Homo sapiens: one gene and its partners. The protein of the gene in region 4 purifies or fractionates together with the protein of the main gene of each other region. This does not show direct contact. Each region holds a gene or a part of one and is shown on either strand. Other genes may lie near its edges.

Region 1 (4,536 bases), on a different chromosome or scaffold from region 4:
AATTCTGGTTTAGTGAAATTCTACAATTTTATTTCTACCACTTTTGTATACAGTTCTAACAAAATATGGTTAATGCAAATTTATTTGTAACCCCAATATCAACATTCATGGTACCTTCCTGCTCACTGACAGCCATGCACAGAATAGTGAAACATCTGAAACACCCACCACATGCATTCCCAACTGAGGTCAAACAAGGCAACACCCTGCCTTCTTGTTTCAGCTGGCATACTGTAAACAAGTTATCCTTTCTGCAGTATATTTAGTGTCATGCTTTTCATTGATGATTTTGCTGTATAAAATGGTCCCCCACAAGTAGTGCTGAAGTGCTGTCTAGAGTTCCTAAGTGCAAGAAGATAGTGATATGCCTCACAGAGAAAATACATGTTAGAGAAGCTTAGTTCAGGCATGAGTTAATAGTGCTGCTGTCAGTAAAGTTCAATGTTAATGAACCAACAATATATATTAAATAAGGTGTCTTTAAACAGAAACAAAGCCAGGCATGGTAGCTCAGGCCTGTAATCCCAGCCCTTTGGGAGGCCAAGGCAGGAGGATAATTTGAGCCCAGGAATTTGAGACCAGCCTGGGCAACAAGTGAGACCCCATCTCTACAAAAAATTTAAACATTAGCCGGGTATGGTGGCATGTGCGTGTGATCCTAGCCACTTGGGAGGCTGACAAAGGAGGATTCCTTGAGCCCAGGAGTTTCAGGCTGCAGTGAGCTATGATGTTTTTGGCTTTTTTTTTTTTTTTTTTTGACGGAGTCTCACTCCGTTGCCTAGGCTGGAGTGCAGTGGCGCAGTCTCCGCTCACTGCAACCTCTGCCTCCCAGGTTCAAGTGATTCTCCTGCCTCAGCCTCCTGAGTAGCTGGGATTACAGGCACACCACCACACCTGGCTAATTTTTGTATTTTTAATAGAGACGGGGTTTCAGCATGTTTGTCAGGCTGGTCTCGAACTCCTGACCTCATGATCCACCTGCCTCGGCCTCCCAAAGTGCTGGCATTACAGGCGTGAGCCACTGTGCCTGGCCTATGATACACTCTCGTACTATACAGCCTGGGTGACAGAGCAGGACACTGTCTCAAAAAAATAAAAATTAAAAATAAAAATAAACAGAAACACATGAAACAGGCCAGGTTCAGTGGCTCATACCCGTAATCTCAGCAGGTGAAGCCCAGGTGAGTGGATTGCTTGAGCCCAGGAGTTCAAGACCAGCCTGGGCAACATGTCGAAACCCTGTCTCTACCAAAAAGTAAATAAATACAAAAATTAGCCAGGTGTGGTGGTGTACACCTGAGGTCTCAGCTACTCAGGAGGCTGAGGTGGGAGGATTGCTTGAGCCTGGGAGGCAGAAACTGCAGTGAGTGAGATCATGTCACTGGACTCTAACCTGGGCAACAGAGCAAGACCCTGTCTCAAAAAAAGAAAAAAAAAGAAACACATAAAATAAGGTTATGTATTGACAGGTTGAAAAAGTGACCAGAGGCTCGCAGGAACCTAGCCCTGTATTTCCCCTAGGAGCAATGGTTGAAGATTTGGTAATTCAGTTCTACAATTCAACTTTATGGAACTACCACAAATAACAAGACTGTATTAGCCCCATTTTACAGATAAAACAATGAAGCTGATAGAGAGGTGAAGTGGCAGCTCCAGGCACACTATGGCACAGCATCCTGTTTTATTTTCTTCACAGCACTCATGGACTGATAATTGTGTTTACTTATTTATTTTCAGTCTAAGCCATTGCAATTATAAGTTCCATAATAGAGATTTAGGGACTTTTGTTCATCTTGTTCTCTGTTATTTCCCCATGCCAAAAACTGTTCCAGGCACATACCCAATCCAATGAATAAAGAAATCTCCTATATGTTAACTGTGTAAATATTAGGTGTGATGTTATGGTTTAAAGGGAAAGGCAGTTACTTTCATTATGCTAAATTCAAAATATTTAGGGAGACAAATGCAGGCTTAAGACTGGGTGGACACTAAAGAAAACCAAAAAGCCCAGAGTTGCCTAAAGTGGCACTGTCTCTGAACCCTAGAGAGCAGATAAAGATTGCCTGGGATGGAAACTTCACAGCTAAACCAAAGTATGGCAACTCTACAGAGTAAAGGAAAGAAAGATACTCTCTGAAATCATATTTTTGCTTAGCACACCATTTCTCCATAACAGAGGAGAGAGAGCAGACATGGACAGAAATGGTGCCTCTGAAGCCAAAGCTCAAGTTAAACCTGCATGAGAGTGAAAAACTGAGAACAGAAACTCAGAGCAGGTATCTGAACCTGGCCATGAGGCAGTGCCTGCAGAGTGAGAGAAATGTAAGTTGGACTTAAAAGGTTCCCGCATTCCCAGTCCAAGTGGAACTGATGGGCTGTGGCTGCCTGCAGTTATGTCCAGCATCAGAAGCACTGGTGAGAAAGGACTCTAGGATTCCCTTTTTATGAATACAGAGAGGAAAATGAGATTAAGACCCTCTTACACCAACTCCTACAACAACAGCTAACACAAGAACTGAAGACAAACAGGCGAGATCCCAGAATTAATGTTCACTGCTACTCTGAGCAAAAATTGAACAGTAAACAATAGAGATTTCAAAATTATAAAGAGCCACTTCAGTATTCTAATTTAACCTTCAAAAATTAAGATGACCTAAAGCACCACGAACTGATAATTCCATTCCACCTCAACACCCTGTGCTCCTCAGCTATTATGAGAACAGACTGCAACCCAATTCAACTCATGTTCCAAAATGCAACAAGCAGCTTCAACAGGACATGCTGGAAGAAGCAGCACGTCTCATCGTTTACTGATTCATATTTTGGTAGCAAGGTTACAATTAGCTCACCGGTGGAGAATAAACCTATTTATAACACAGCAGTCCACCTGAAAGACATAATCATCTAAAAAGGTTCTTAGAGGAAAATAAGTGCAGGTTCTTCCTGTACTGATTGCAGATTCCCAAGGTCCTTTTGGATAAAGTCCTCAGTCTAACCTTCCTGTGTTCACAGTCACCATTCTGGCCACTTCTCAGCCTCCATGTTCTTATGTAACATTTACATAGTGCCATAAACATACCCAGAGTTGCGTAAGAATTAAAACGTTGCCAAACCAATAAAGCCTAAAGCAGGTCACTCCCTCCAGACTGTCTTTGATTAGCACAGGTATGCTGCCTAGTCGACGATGTAAGAGCCTGCCAGAGACAGAAATTAACTTGAGGAAATCTGAAAGGGGTCTACAAAAAAGCACAAAAAGAAAACCACACTGTGACATGCTGTACGTCTATCAATCACAGAGTATGTTTTTCTGCTCCTTAAGATAAAAAAGTAACCCAGCATTGCTTATTCACTGAAGTCAGAAACTGTGTCTAAAAATACCTCCCCGCCAACTGGCTATCAGTAAGTCAGTCTCACAAATGTCCCAATAAGAGTGACACAAAATATTTCCTTATTTTTACAGAGGGAAAACTGAGGCAGTCACAGAAAGGTTAAGTTACTTGTTCAAGGACAACTTGTAAGGCAGCTAAGTTCTAGGGCTGAAAACCAGCCTCCTCCCTCCATCTGGCTTTAACCTTTAACCAGAGTAGCCATTTTAATATGTTTTATCACATCTGTTCCAGGAGCTGTTTAAACAAAACTAATCAGAGGTCTCTACAAGACTGCACTTCCACTGTACTTAAAATCCATGTCCACTCAACAAAATTACAAGGCTTGGCTTGAAATTAGATTTTTAGTCCGCTCACAAAATTTCAAAATGTTCCTATGAGAATGTCAAATATCTCTCTTGTTGCTTTTGTCTTGAGAAATGAATGTCATGTTCTCCTGCTACTAACTCAATTTTACATTTTTAAATGTGAAAATTCCAAAGCCAGGCCTTAAAACATGTACACCTATCAAACGGATGCTATTTCTAACTGAAACTCATTCTCCTTATCACTGGCCTTTTACTAAGTCCTAGTTAATTCATTAATTAATAGAAACACCTATCCCTTACTGCCCCTCACATCAAGTCCAAGTATCAGGCATCAGAGCTGTCTGGCTCTGTCACTCCTCCAGCCCACGTAGGGGAGCACTATATAGGAAATGCAGGGGAGGGGAAAAAAATCAACTTCTTGTTATCCCACAGCCTCTATTTTCCCAGAACTGACGTTTTACTTTAAGCCCTTTGCAGCAGTGGTCTCCATAGCATACACTATTGGCAACTAGACGTGTCCTGGAAAAAACTGTAGTGTCTGGCCAAGAAGTTTAAAGGCCCTGGAGAATGTTTGCTGGACACACAACCTAATTTCCAATTTACCAAAAAAAGAAACGAACTCCCTATTTTACTCACCCACCTTAACCCCCACAAACATCCATTTTAGGAAGGTTACAAAAAAATGAACTCTGCCCCATTCAGAACCACTTGGATTATCAAACATTCTTAACTAGGCTCACAACCAGAAAAACCCCACAAACACTACATCAAATCAGCAGGGAAATGACTGTTAAAAATCCTGGATATATTAGGGGCAGGATAAAAATTCCTATATGAGGATT
Region 2 (4,536 bases), on a different chromosome or scaffold from region 4:
CCCTTTTTTTTTTTTTTTGAGACAGGGTCTTGCTCTGTTGCCCAGTTTGGAGTGCAGTGGTGCAATCACAGCTCACTGCAGCCTTGACCTCCCAGGCACAAGCCATCTGCCTACCTCAGGCAACTGAGTAGCTGGGACTACAGGCACGCACCATCACGCCCAGCTAATTTTTGTATTTTTTGTAGAGGCAGGATCTCATCACGTTGTCCAAGCTGGTCTTGAACTCTTGGCCTCAAGTGATCCTCCTGCCTTAGCCTCCCAAAGTGCTGAGACTATAGGTGTAAGCCACCTCGCCTGGCCTTTATCGATTTTTTTTTTTTTTGAGATGGAGTCTCGCTGTGTCACCAGGCTGGAGTGCAGTGGCACAATCTCGGCTCACTGCAACCTCCAACTCCCTGGTTCAAGCAATTCTCCAGCCTCAGCCTCCCAAGTAGCTGGGATTACAGGCACATGCCACCACGCCCAGCTAATTTTTGTATTTTTAGTAGAGACGGGGTTTCACCATGTTGCCCAGGATGGTCTTGATCTCCTGACCTCATGATCTGCCTGCTTCGGCCTCCCAAAGTGCTGGGATTACAGGCGTGAGATACCGCGCCTGCCCTCTGCTATTTTTTTTTAAGTTATAATTTTCCAAACTACATAAACCATATAGAGAAAGCATGAACAGTTGGTCATGACAAAACATAACAATGCTACTTTTAATACCTGGAGAAGATATGGATGCCAGTTGGTGTTTACACTGTGTCTTCTGAGAAGAAAGCATTGCACAGCCCACATAAAGAGCTTGAGTCTGCAGCACTGTTTTCACACTGCAGTTTAGTGGATTTGAAAGGCTAGAACCATAGGTCCATAAAACAGAACAGAACTTGAATAACTGAAAAACATCTTCTAGATGCACCTAATTAAAAAAAAAAAAAAGCAAACTTTTAATTCTTACTCAAATAAGCTGGTTCCAAATCCTCTTCTCACTAGTGTACAATTATAAAGAAACAAATAATTTAAGGCAAAGTTTTGCTTTGTCTAATCATTTCAAATTATTCCATATTCCATGTTTTAATGAACTGGGAAGATGTCAATGAAGAGTGATATTCAGAAGCCTCACTATAACCTTGCACTTGAAAACACAGAACCAAGACAAGAGCAGTATCTGGGACGCCTAATTAAGAAAATACTTCAACAATGTGCTGAGCAATGCCAACTCCATGTCAAATGCTGTAGAGAGAACAAGTCAGGCAAGAACAGGAACTGACCACTGGGCCTGGCAACATGGAGGTCACTGGTGCTGGGGATGAAATTTCCTGAGTAACTTCACGTGTGCTAAATAACCTCTCTGAACACCAGTATTCACATTTTTAAATGGTATTAACCAATCAAAAAGACTGGGCTGTTGTTATTTTTAAATATAGTAATGGGCCTAACATATTAGTAGGAGTGTAGCAATGTTAGTTTCTATTCAACCTACCGATTAGTATTGTGATTGTACTCTTTTACAGGGCCCGTGCTATTATATACTCTTCACTGTTTACAAGTCTACTTTTGTTTACATTATAAACTGTCATAACCCAAATAACCCACAGTATCTTTTTATTTATTTATTATTTTTTTTGAGATGGAGTCTCGCTCTGTCGCCCAGGCTGGAGTGCAGTGGAGCGATCTCCGCTCACTGCAAGCTCCACCTCCCAGGTTCATGCCATTCTCCTGCCTCAGCCTCCCGAGTAGCTGGGACTTCAGGAGCCCGCCACCACACCCGGCTAATTTTTTTTGTATTTTTCGTAGAGACGGCGTTTCACCATGTTAGCCAGGATGGTCTCGATCTCCTGACCTCGTGATCCACCCACCTTGGCCTCCCAAAGTGCTCGGATTATAGGCGTGAGCTACTGCGCCCAGCCCATCTTTTTTTTTTGAGACAGAGTCTCACTCTTGTCACCCAGGCTGGAGTACGGTGGTGTGATCTCGGCTCACTGCAACCTCTGCCTCCCGGGTTCAAGCGAATTCTCCTGCCTCTGCCTCCCAAGTGGCTGGGATTACAGGCCCCATCACCATGCCTGGCTAATTTTTGTATTTTTAGTAGAAATGGAGTTTCACTATGTTGGCCAGGCTGGTATTGAACTCCTGACCTCAAGTGATCCGCCTGCCTCGGCCTCCCAAAGTGCTGGGATTGCAGGCCAGCCATATCTTCTTTAAGGGTAGAGTACGCCTGAAAAGGAGGAGGCTTGTACCTTTATGAAAAGTTTCATCAGAACTCTGAAATGAACAGCATCGGCACCATTGAGCATCATCTCAAACAGCCCAATGAGCAAGTGCAGATAGTCCCTGCTGTCTTCTTTCAGTTGTTCAGGATTCCACCATATATCACCTACAAGGACATGGAAAGAGAAATGATGCTAGATCCTACATGAACATGCTGGGAGCTTTTTATTCAAGACAGTCATTGTGGAGTCAATCATTCAGTTTTGCAGAGTATCACATTTAAAAGATTCACAGCTTGTATCTTACCTTTAGGAAAAGATTTAGGAGCTTTCAGTGCATAAATAAATTTTTTCAAGGAAAATACAAGAAAAACCGAGTCCTCCACGGCCACCCTCTGAGTGCTGTTGAGCTCTTCTACATAATGTGCCCACAGCTCCACTGGGATCCCTCTGTCTAACATCAGTTCAATGTGCCATTCTGAGGGGATTTCCTGAAATGTTAAAGGAAACAAAAACTAGTACAAACTAAGGGTTCTGAACATGGGTTATATGAATTCCTCTGCATAATATGCAAAAGTTTTGTTTATGTGTGCATTTTGGTGGGGAAAGGATTAACAGAACTGCTTTGGTCGGATTTTTAAAGAGGTTTATCACTATTCACAAGGAAAGACAAAGTTAAATTTTATCTATGTCTTACCTTGAAACATTATCTCTAAAAACAAACTTTATTCATATGAACTGTTTATCCAATAAAGGGTAGGAATAAATAGGCATATTTCTTTTTTTTTTTTTTTTTTTTGAGACGGAGTCTTGCTCTGTCACCCAGGCTGGAGTGCAGCGGCACAATCTCAGCTCACTGCAACCTCCGCTTCCCAGGTTCAAGCAATTCTACTGCTTCAGCCTCCCGAGTAGGAAGGATTACAGGTGCCCGCCATCATGCCTGGCTAATTTTTGTATCTTTAGTAGAGATTAGGTTTCACCATTTTGGCCAGGTTGGTCTCGAACTCCTGTCCTCAGATGATCCACCCGCCTCGGCCTCCCAAAATGCTGGGATTATAGGCGTGAGCTACCGTGCCTGGCCAAAATAGGTATATTTCAAAACAGGAAGATAAACAGTTGGATTGCCAAGACATAGTTAAAGGGAATTCTTTGATTTCACTGTTTTACCACTAATCTGAATAAGGTACATGGCAAAAATCTCCAAACCTGCAGATGATTTTAAACAAGCAGCAAAATGTTAGGTGTTTAGAAATTATACTGTAAGTGCCAAAAGAATGCAGAACAGGTGTAAGAAAATGACAAATATGACTCTGTACAAGCAGTACAGAGTAATAACTTAGAAGGAAAATAATCCAAAGCCAGATTTACAATGTAACGTCTCCAGTGAGGGATTTGATTAACTCAACGTGCTGCTACAGGCGAAAACATGCTCATGACCTCGAGAAAGGTATTAAAAGTAAAGCAATATAAAATAACCTGTTATCTACATATGTATAATAAAACACTCTATTTGTCCATACTTTTAACACTGAGAACCAGTATAGTTCAGGTCATCATACTTCACAAAAGACACCAAGAAACTAAAAGTTAAGAAGGGCCTATCTGGACTATTTTTCAAAATATGAAGATTTTACTCTTTTTAAAGTTTACACATTTTAGCTAACAATGGCCATGATCAGAACTTATAAAATCCTGCGGGTATACGTAAATGTGAAAAAGATATAATTCATTTAGTAAATCCTATAATGAGAAGCCCTCTAAAATTTGGAGGACAAATAAAAACAAAATCCTTACATATAGCAGATATTAAAAAAAAAGTCTTGCTACCTCAAAACATGTCAAATGTAAACAGCTGAAACATGTCCTTTAGTAATACTATGAAAGACAGTAGTAGGCTGGAGGGATACACATCTATGTAATATTAAAATTATTTAAAGCCTAAAAGATCTATTTTTAGTAAACAATTGAATGAAATAGTATTTTGTTCAAGCACTAACACACCAAGTGAATTCTTCATCGCTAGAGGTAGTTAGGTGTAGCTTGGGTAATTATCCAATAAAGACAATAAAAGAGAGGAGAGTCAGGCATCAGATACAAAATATTGCAACCCTAAAATTTTATAATTCAACTAAACTTTCCGCAAAAGCAAGGGAGTGCCTAGTTGACTATCTCACTGCTACCCAAGACTGCTTCACATTTCATCCAGCTACTATCCACAGACTCAACATCTCGCCTCTGATTTTCAGTTTTGCTGTGACTAATAGGCCAGGCTGTTGTTTTATTCAACATCCCACTTTCTGGAGATTCTGCTTTCCTTACCACTGCAGTAATGACACTTTCAAGCTTC
Region 3 (3,288 bases), on a different chromosome or scaffold from region 4:
AAGCTGGTCTAAAACTCCTACCTCAAGCGACCCTTCCATCTCAGCCTCCCAAAGTGTTAGGATTACAGGCGTGAGCCATAGCACCTGGCCCCATTGTTTTATTTATTTTTTTGGCCTGTCTAGGAAGTATGAATGTCTCTGGACTAGGCGTAGTGTGGCAGAGTTGATCTGTAAAATAGGACCTGGTTTCTTCATTCTCTTTAGAATTTATTTAATTTTCCCTCCATTTAAAAAGATTATTTCTTGAGCTGTTTGGGAGTAAGTTATAGCAATAAATATTTAACCCTGTATTTTTTAAGAACAAAGGCATTCTTATTCATCAGCAGAATGCAGTCATTAAATTCAAGACATTTACCATTGATATGACCTCTTTTAACCTGGAGATGTTCCCTATCTTTTGTTTTTTAAGACATTTTTGAGGCGTACAGGCCCATTGTTTGGTAGAATGGTCCTCAATTTGGGTTTGTCTTTTATTTTCTTATGATTGGTTTCATGAGCTTATACAGTCTGAAGGAATTATCCCAGGAGAGATGTGGCGTGGTCCTCTTTGTGTATCACATCAGAAAGCATTTGATGTGTATTCCATTTTTGGTGATGTTAAATTGACCTCTTGGTTGAGGTATATAATTTATTTCTAATGCTAATAAAAGATAGCTCTCTGCATTATATTTTTTGGAGGGAAAGAGGGCCTTCCATAGGGATGCTCTGTCTTAGGATGGAAAACTGGAAGGTTCCCTGGTGGAAAGGTCTCATAGCTAATTGACGTGTCAGAACCATGGCTGGTTACCACGTCTGCAGACTTTGGCCCGAGTGCTTCATCCAGTGGTGACTGATCATCTCCTGATAAGAAGCCCATTCATTAAGGGCTTACTCTGTGGTAGGCATTGTCTATCTTACTCCTTAGAGCCCTCCTGTGAAGGAGGAGGATCATATTAGCTCAGGCAGAGCCACTGGGAAGTTGGATGACTTGCCTGCAAGTGGCAGAGCCACTTCCCTGGAAGTCTTTCTACTGTGGTTCCTGCATGCCCTTCCCCCAGACAGACTCCCACACTCACCCCTGCACCCATGCCTGCACCCGTAACGCTCTGCTGGTCTCTGCCCCACAGTGGCCATCAACCTCATCGTGCAGCACATCCAGGACATCCTGAATGGAGGGCCCTCCAAACGGCAGACCAATGGCTGTCTCAACGGCTACACCCCTTCACGCAAGAGGCAGGCATCGGAGTCCAGCAGCAGGCCGCATTGACCCGTCTCCATCGGACCCCAGCCCCTATCTCCAAGAGACAGAGGAGGGGTCAGGAGGCACTGCTCATCTGTACATACTGTTTCCTATGACATTACTGTATTTAAGAAAACACCATGGAGATGAAATGCCTTTGATTTTTTTTTTCTTTTTGTACTTTGGAACGACAAAATGAAACAGAACTTGACCCTGAGCTTAAATAACAAAACTGTGCCAACTACTACTGGTGATGCCTAATTATGAATCCAACGTGTAACCAGTTATAAATACATATATATATAAAAAAGGATCTATTTTTGTGTAAATGTACAAATACTGTAAAGCTGTTTGCCATAAGTATTTTGCAGGAGGGTCTGTACTTGAGTGTTTTAGGACTGGAGCTGGAATTTCACCAAGGGGAAATTGCCTGTTGTGTCCCAGGGTGGGGAGGCTCGGGCATCTGTGAGAGACAGGGAGGGTGGCTAAGGTCCAGTTGCTTTTGAGTGCCCCGTGGAACTTGATGGGAATGGGGTTGGAAAACCTTGATTGCCTCCTCTGTCACATGCCACTCTTGGAGCTGGAGCTTAGTGATATGTCAATGAGAGATACTCTTGTCTTTTTTTTTTTTCTTTTCTTTTTTTTTTTTGAGTTGAAATTAGGTAAAATCTCAACTCAAAAATCAAACTCAGGGAAGAGGCCCACTGAGGAGAACAAGTCTTCTGCATTTTCTTCCTGCCCTGCTCCCACCTTCTCGCCTCTGGCTGCTTGGATAGCTTGGTGACTCCTTCCTCACCCTCCTGCTTCTCTGTCTCTCCAAGAAGCCAGAGCTGCCTCTTTCCTTCCCTGGAAGAGATTTTATGGGATCGCTTCCTGATAGAAGATGGGAAGGAGAGGGCAGAACTTTGCCTGCTGTCATATCTGAAGAATCACTGGTTCTTTCTGCATCCCAGGGGCGTAACTGATCTGACTCCTTGGGCTTTTTCCTGTATTGTGGAATATAGAGTGGACCATTGCAGGCTGGGTGTGGGTGAGGGCTTCGGTAACTGATGCCGGCAGCAGCGCCTCATGGAGTGGCAGGGGAGCTCTGTCTGTGGAGGGGTAGTAGTTTCCGCTTCCTGGAGGTTTGCAGTGAGGTGAGGAGAGTAACTTTGGTCAGGGATTCTCACTAGCAGCGTCATGGCCAGGATGCTTTACTTATTTGCAATACCACCTAGTGGATATGGCAACTGCAGAGCATAAAAGGGGCTCGGAAAAGCAGTTTTTACAAAGTATTTAAAAGGAGAGTATTTAAATCATAGGTACCTAAGTTGGAGCCTGAGGTTGAAATATTTGGGGTGGAGATTTCTAGCTTTCCTGAGAGCTGCTGCTTGGTGGTAGTGTTTTCTCTGGAAGTACAGATTCCTGACATTCTGGGTGGAGGGGAGCCCAAGTGAGCCTGAAGGAGTTCTGATTATAGAGTCCCGAGCCTCAGTTTCTGACTGCAGAAGAGCCAGAGATGTTCATTTCATTGTTGACCACCCTAGTGCTTGGTGGACTGTGCCCTTAGCTATCCCACTGTGGCTGCCATTGCCAGAAACATTTTGGAGAACCTTTTCTTCCCATTGCTCTCAGAGCCTGTTCGAGCCATTCAGGTAAATTGGTCTCCATTATTACCTGGTCACACCAGATTTTCCCCCAGACTCAGCACCATCCAGTCTGATTCCCCGTTTCTGGGCTCAGTTTGACTCTAAATCTGTTTTGCTATTTTAAAAAGTCAAACCTGGTCCCCAGCAGAGCTTGCCACCCGGAGACTTTCAGGAGACCGTGCAGGCTCTGAAGGGAGCTCCCAGTCACAGCAGCCGCCTACTTGGAGCAAGGGAAGGCTCCCAAGATGCCTCCTTTGAAAGCCGGTGCTCACCAAGATCAGTTCAGGATCAATCATTATCCTTGTAGTCATGCCTTGATCAGTTCTGAGATGAAGCAGGGAATGCAGGCCTGGGTTAGTATCCTGAGGACACAGGGCCCCTGGCCTTGATGGCACTGGGCTGTGCTCAGGTGAAGCCCACCCGTGTCTGGGAGAGCCTTGG
Region 4 (5,572 bases):
GTACGTGGGCTTCTGCAAAAGGTCAACTTGAAGCAAACCCCAATGTCATCTCTAATTAGCTATGCAACCTCAGCCAAGTTTTGTTGATGCTCTGACCCTTAGTTTCCTTATCTGCACAAGTATTGTTGGCTGTTAAATATTAAATGTGATAATGTATGCACTATGCCTGGCACAGTTTTAAGCCTAATAGGTACTCAAAATGATAACAATTAGTATTAAATATAATAATTCCTCCCATCGGTTTCTAGCCTGGCACTGTTCCCAGCTCCTTCCTGTTCTTGGGCTGTTCATTCTAATTACCTCTCAGTTTAGAGCTAAAAGGGCAAGATAATTCAAAGAGTTGGGAGAATCTGCCCTTTCCAATGGAAACAGTGGGCAAAGGTTTTTCTTCATTCTACATTCTAAAAATTGTTGCTTTGCATGCAAAGGAGGAGGAAAAGCATGTGGCCATGTGTGTCATTTTCAGGTGGAAAAATGGAAGGCAGTGAGAGATGAGTGACTTTCTCAAGGTCACAGACCACAGGACCCTTCCTTGATAGAAAACATTTAACCCTACCTCACAGGATTGATGTGAAAATCAATTGAGAATATACGTGAATGTATTTTTTTTTCTAACCGCAAAGCACCAGACAGTAAAAAGATACTGCTTTTGTCCTTTCAAAAAAAAACCCACATTGCTGTTACCACAGTGGTCCAGGAACACAAAGAGAGAGCACTTTCTAGGGGGGAAATGAGTCATTGTGCGGCATGAGAGCTGATAGCCTCTTTCCGAGAGAGAACGCACACAGCTTATGCAGAGAGCTCCGGTTTCCTGGAAGACGTCCCGTGGCTGGCAGAGGGTGGAAGTTGGGGAAGGAGAGAGATGGGGAGTGAAGTGGGAGGGGATTGACTGGTCAACAGTGGAAACAAACACAGTCTCACGTGTCCAGAACTTATTCCAGGTAGAGCCCAGAGCAAACGTGAAGGGGGCCTGAAGGAAAGCCAAACCGGTTGTTTCCTTTGAAACCAATCCCTATGAAGTTATCTTCCTTGGAATTTTGATTTGAAGAAAGGTTCATTCTTACTTATTTTTTTTTTTCCTGACTGTATTTCTGCTCTTTCTGTCCCTCCCCCACAGCCTGGGCAGTCAAGCCTATTGAGCATCCTTTAGAGAGTTCACAGGAGTGAGGCTCCAGCTCTTCTAGCCCCAGATGTTAAATAAAGTAGGATGGGTTGCGCCCACTCTGGACGCCCGGCCGACTGCCATCCCTGGCACTCTAGCCAATCTCCCGAGTGCCAGAGGGAAAAAAGGGAAATGTCTGCAGGGTGTTGGCAATGCCATTGTCAATGCACGAGTGTGGGCCCTTCATTAAGATCGCGGTGCTCCTGATGTAACCAGAGCCTCAAACTCGCCCTGACTCACAATGAAAATGGAGAGTTAAGACATTCTGCTCTCACTGGCTCCATTGCTGTCTGTCTACCCCACCACATTCCACTGATTACTCTGAGAAAGAAATTTCCTATTTCATATTTATTCACTATAAGAATTTTCACCACATAATTCTATTCCTTTTCCCGATAGTAGCTACCTAAGCCTTTATGATGCTTCAAACACAGAGTGTGTTTTCAATAAATGTGGGAAGGAACAACCACCTAAGACTCAGAAGACCACAAATCTAATCCCAGCTTTGCCAGAAAGTTGCTCTATGAATCTGAGTCATTTTTCTTATCCCTGTAGGTTCACTTCCCTCATCTGTAAAATGGGAATATCACCTAGATGCTATGAGGCGCCAGTGAGACACTGCACATAGCAACAGTAAGCTATTAATATACAAGGAATTACTAGCATTTTAAAATGTATTTTTTCCCAGAGCTATTCTGTATACACAGCAATTTTCTTTTACCTGTTATTGGCAAACACTCAATTTGCAAGTCCTCTCCTCCTTTCTATTTTATAGGATAAACTCTACACATCAAAACTAATCTTCAGGGTAATCTGTGACTACCTATCAGATAGTCATTTCATTCTGGGTCTCTCTGACATCACCCCAACTCCATCCGCAGAATTAGTGCCATGAGCTGTGCAAGAGGCCTTCCTGATATATTTACAAATAGGTAAATTGCAGAAAATGATTTCAAGAATTTCCATCAGCTTTGTCAATGCTAGGACCAGAACTCCAGAACTCTAGCATTAGTAATGTTGTGTTTGCTTATGTTTGTAAAGAAGTTTACAATTTACAGAGCATTTTCAAATCCACTTTTTCACTAGATAATTCCAACCCTACTAAATAGGTAAGACAGTGACAATGTCCACTCTATAGATGAGAAAACTGAGGCTTGGGGAAGTTAAATAACCTGCCAAAAAGCCATACAACTAGATATCAACAGAACAATGACTCAGACCCACATCTTGCTGCAAAGCCAGTGGCCTCTCTGAATGCTATTTACCCCCTCTTCTTTCATCCAAGAGCAAAATGATGCCCCCTCCTCTTGCCTTCCTGGCATCCCAGCAGCCCTTCTCCTCTTTCCTCTCCATCACAGTTGGTTTCTAACTATTGGTGTTCTAAGAAGGGGTCTGACATCTGGCGGCTGCTTTTCTCTGCTTATATGTATGCCCTTGGCTTGCCCTGTGTGTCTGCCACTACAGTGGCTTAGGTCCAGATTCATGTAGAGCTAACAGTTCCCAGAGAACAAGGAATAAAGGCTGCTAGACAAAGAGATGGTCCAGGCAATAACTGTGATAATAATGGGCTGGAAAAGAAGTATTTGGGCTCTGTCTCCGTTCCCAGGACCAAGCCCCAGATCAAATCATGGTAACAGTGGTCTCAGCAGCTACTAGGCTAGTCATGGGATGGGCAGAGATAACACAACCTGATCCTCAGGCCAGTGGCCCTGACTAATGAGCTCACCAGGAGGTTTCTGTGCTTCCTAAGGTTGGGTGAGATTACTCAGGCCTTAGCTTCATCAAGACAGAAGAAGAGAGCTTCTTCACAGGTACTTTTCTGGCCAGTTTCCTCAGGACTCTGGGTAAAAGAGAAGTTCTCTGGAGCCCCCACACGCTGTGGGATCTTAGTGTCTCCACATCAAAAGGAAACCCATACCTGTGGCTGGGGCAGAGGTCTCTCATGATCCTTTTTTGTTTTGTTTTGTCTTTTTAAAAGACAGGATCTTGCTCTGTCACCGAGGCTGGCTGGAGTGCAGTGGCATGATAACAGCTCACTGCAGCTTCTATCTCCTGGGCCCAAGGGTTCCTCCCACCCCAGCCTCCTGAGTAGCTGGGACTACAGGCACATGCCACCATGCCCGGTAAATTTTTTTTTTCTTTTGTAGAGACAGGATCTACCTATGTTGCCCAGGCTGATCTTGAACTCCTGAGCTCAAGGGATCTTCCCGCCTAGGGCTCCCAAAGTGCAAGGATTACAGGCGTGAGCCACCACACCTGGCCTCATTTTCCTCCTGCCCTCAGGTCTGACTCCCTCTGCCTGGCTGTTGAGACCTTCTGGAATAGATTCTATTCTTTCTGATCTCTACTGTCCTTGTGTTTCTTACCCATACCTGACATCCCTCTCTAAAGTACCTCAAATTCACTTCAGGCAATCCCACCTCTAGGCTTTTCCACACACTGTTCTACCCACTCTCTTGGGAAAACTTTCCTCTCCTTTGTTGATCTTCATTTGTTGAAGGACAGTTAGAAATCCACCTCCTCCATGAAGCCTCCTCTGACTACTCCGGCACAAAATGATCTCACCCTTCTCTAAATGTTATTTAAAATTTATCCTTTACTTATTCTTTAACTGTTTTGTAAGTGTTAGTTCTCCCTGGTCCCACCCTACCCCCAACTCTAGATGGTCAGCCCCCCAAGAGCTGTGATTATGTCTTACTTCTTTTATAACCTTTTACTCTCTGTGAATTCTGAGTACCTAACAGGATTTTGGTGCAACTTCACCCTCATTGAGTGCCTAGCGCTGGGTGAATAGACATGTAAAAAGCTGGCTGGACACAGTGGCTCACACCTGTAATCCCAACACTTTGGGAGGTCGGGGCACAATAATTACTTGAGACTAGTTCAAGACTAGCCTGGGCAGCATAGCAAGATCTCATCTCTAAAAAAATTTATTTTTAATATATAAAAAGCCATGGGGACAGTTCTCAGAAAGATTGCAACTATTTTTGGGAAAACAGGACATAAATATGTTTAACCATGAGACTGGGAAGCAGTCTGGGGCTAGATAATAAAAGTTTGGAAGAACAGGTGAAAGAGTTTGAGCCATACTTTGTAGACAATGGAGTTATTAGAGGTCTTTTTTTTTTATACTTTAAGTTTTAGGGTACATGTGCACATTGTGCAGGTTAGTTACATATGTATACATGTGCCATGCTGGTGCACTGCACCCACTAACTCGTCATCTAGCATTAGGTATATCTCCCAATGCTATCCCTCCCCCCTCCCCCCACCCCACAACAGTCCCCAGAGTGTGATATTCCCCTTCCTGTGTCCATGTGATCTCATTGTTCAATTCCCACCTATGAGTGAGAATATGCGGTGTTTGGTTTTTTGTTTTTAAGCAGGAGAGTGGAGACACGTACAAGACAGAAGATTAATTTGGCTGCAGCCTTGCTTACTTCCCTCGGGCCACATGGAGGCTTCTCTCTGTTCCTCTGTTTGTAGAACCCATCTGGTTTGTTCCTGCCTCTGGGCCTTTTCACTTACAATCCCCCTTGTCTGGGATGCTTGCTCCCTGTCTTCCCAAGGCAGGCTCTTTCCCCCTGTGTCATTCAGAAGCCAGTTCAAAGGCCTCTCCTCGGAGACCCTTCTCTTGACTACTCACCTAGAATAGGTCCCACCCTCAGCCACCCTCGACATTTTACCTGTGTACTTCTTTTGTTCAGAGTATTTCTTGCTTCTGAAATTACCTTCCTTTTGTGTTTGCCTGACTGGATCTCTCTCCATCCTTTGGTTATAAGCTCCAGGAAAGCAAGGAGTTTTTTTTGTCTTATTCACTGTCGTATCTCCAGTGCTTGCAATAGCATCTGTCACATCACAGTTACTCTATAAAAATGGATTGTTTAAATGAATGAATGAATGAAAGTTTAGGATGGATTGTCAGGGGAGTAGCGTTGACAGATGGGCAGATCCAAGAAACACTGAAGGCAGGAAGACCAAGAGGAGACTAGGATACCAGCCCTGAATGAACAAACGGGTATTGCCAAGACCTGGAGGTTGAATGAATGCTGGTAAAGAAGGGAGAGCAGCCAGGACAAAGGAGACTTTCTTCTAGGTTAGATGCCTCGGAGAACAATGGAACCAATAATATAGACAAATACAAGCAGGTAGATGATAAATAGTTCTGTTCTGGCATTTTGTAAAAATCTTGTATTTTTTTTAAATCACATCATAAAAACAATAATTTCAATGAAAGCAAAAAGGTTAGTGTGTCAGAAATGTTCATTAGTTTACCTGCTTTTTTGTTGTAGACATTCCTATAAGGGTTAATTTAAGAATTATCATATCCACTGTTTATTTATTGCTTACTGTTTTGAATATTGTTCTAAGAAATTAAATATATTTATTTCATTCAATCCTCAAAGCAAC

The links. Proteins that work in one complex are often made in the same cells at the same time.
Region 1: the proteins of PROKR1 (region 4) and ACVR1B purify together in Homo sapiens (affinity purification with mass spectrometry; one large-scale study listed by BioGRID and IntAct). This does not show direct contact.
Region 2: the proteins of PROKR1 (region 4) and HEATR1 purify together in Homo sapiens (affinity purification with mass spectrometry; one large-scale study listed by BioGRID and IntAct). This does not show direct contact.
Region 3: the proteins of PROKR1 (region 4) and UCK2 purify together in Homo sapiens (affinity purification with mass spectrometry; one large-scale study listed by BioGRID and IntAct). This does not show direct contact.

Annotation. Positions count from the first base shown.
Region 1 is NC_000012.12:51,953,663-51,958,198, reverse strand, and holds part of ACVR1B (activin receptor type-1B isoform a precursor), read right to left. Parts: intron 1-4,536. UniProt on the Homo sapiens protein: Transmembrane serine/threonine kinase activin type-1 receptor forming an activin receptor complex with activin receptor type-2 (ACVR2A or ACVR2B).
Region 2 is NC_000001.11:236,580,517-236,585,052, forward strand, and holds part of HEATR1 (HEAT repeat-containing protein 1), read right to left. Parts: coding exon 4,509-4,536; intron 2,681-4,508; coding exon 2,497-2,680; intron 2,357-2,496; coding exon 2,220-2,356; intron 899-2,219; coding exon 706-898; intron 1-705. UniProt on the Homo sapiens protein: Ribosome biogenesis factor; required for recruitment of Myc to nucleoli. Involved in nucleolar processing of pre-18S ribosomal RNA. Required for optimal pre-ribosomal RNA transcription by RNA polymerase I.
Region 3 is NC_000001.11:165,906,578-165,909,865, forward strand, and holds part of UCK2 (uridine-cytidine kinase 2), read left to right. Parts: intron 1-1,106; coding exon 1,107-1,246; 3' UTR 1,247-3,288. UniProt on the Homo sapiens protein: Phosphorylates uridine and cytidine to uridine monophosphate and cytidine monophosphate. Does not phosphorylate deoxyribonucleosides or purine ribonucleosides. Can use ATP or GTP as a phosphate donor.
Region 4 is NC_000002.12:68,648,932-68,654,503, reverse strand, and holds part of PROKR1 (prokineticin receptor 1), read right to left. Parts: intron 1-5,572. UniProt on the Homo sapiens protein: Receptor for prokineticin 1. Exclusively coupled to the G(q) subclass of heteromeric G proteins. Activation leads to mobilization of calcium, stimulation of phosphoinositide turnover and activation of p44/p42 mitogen-activated protein kinase.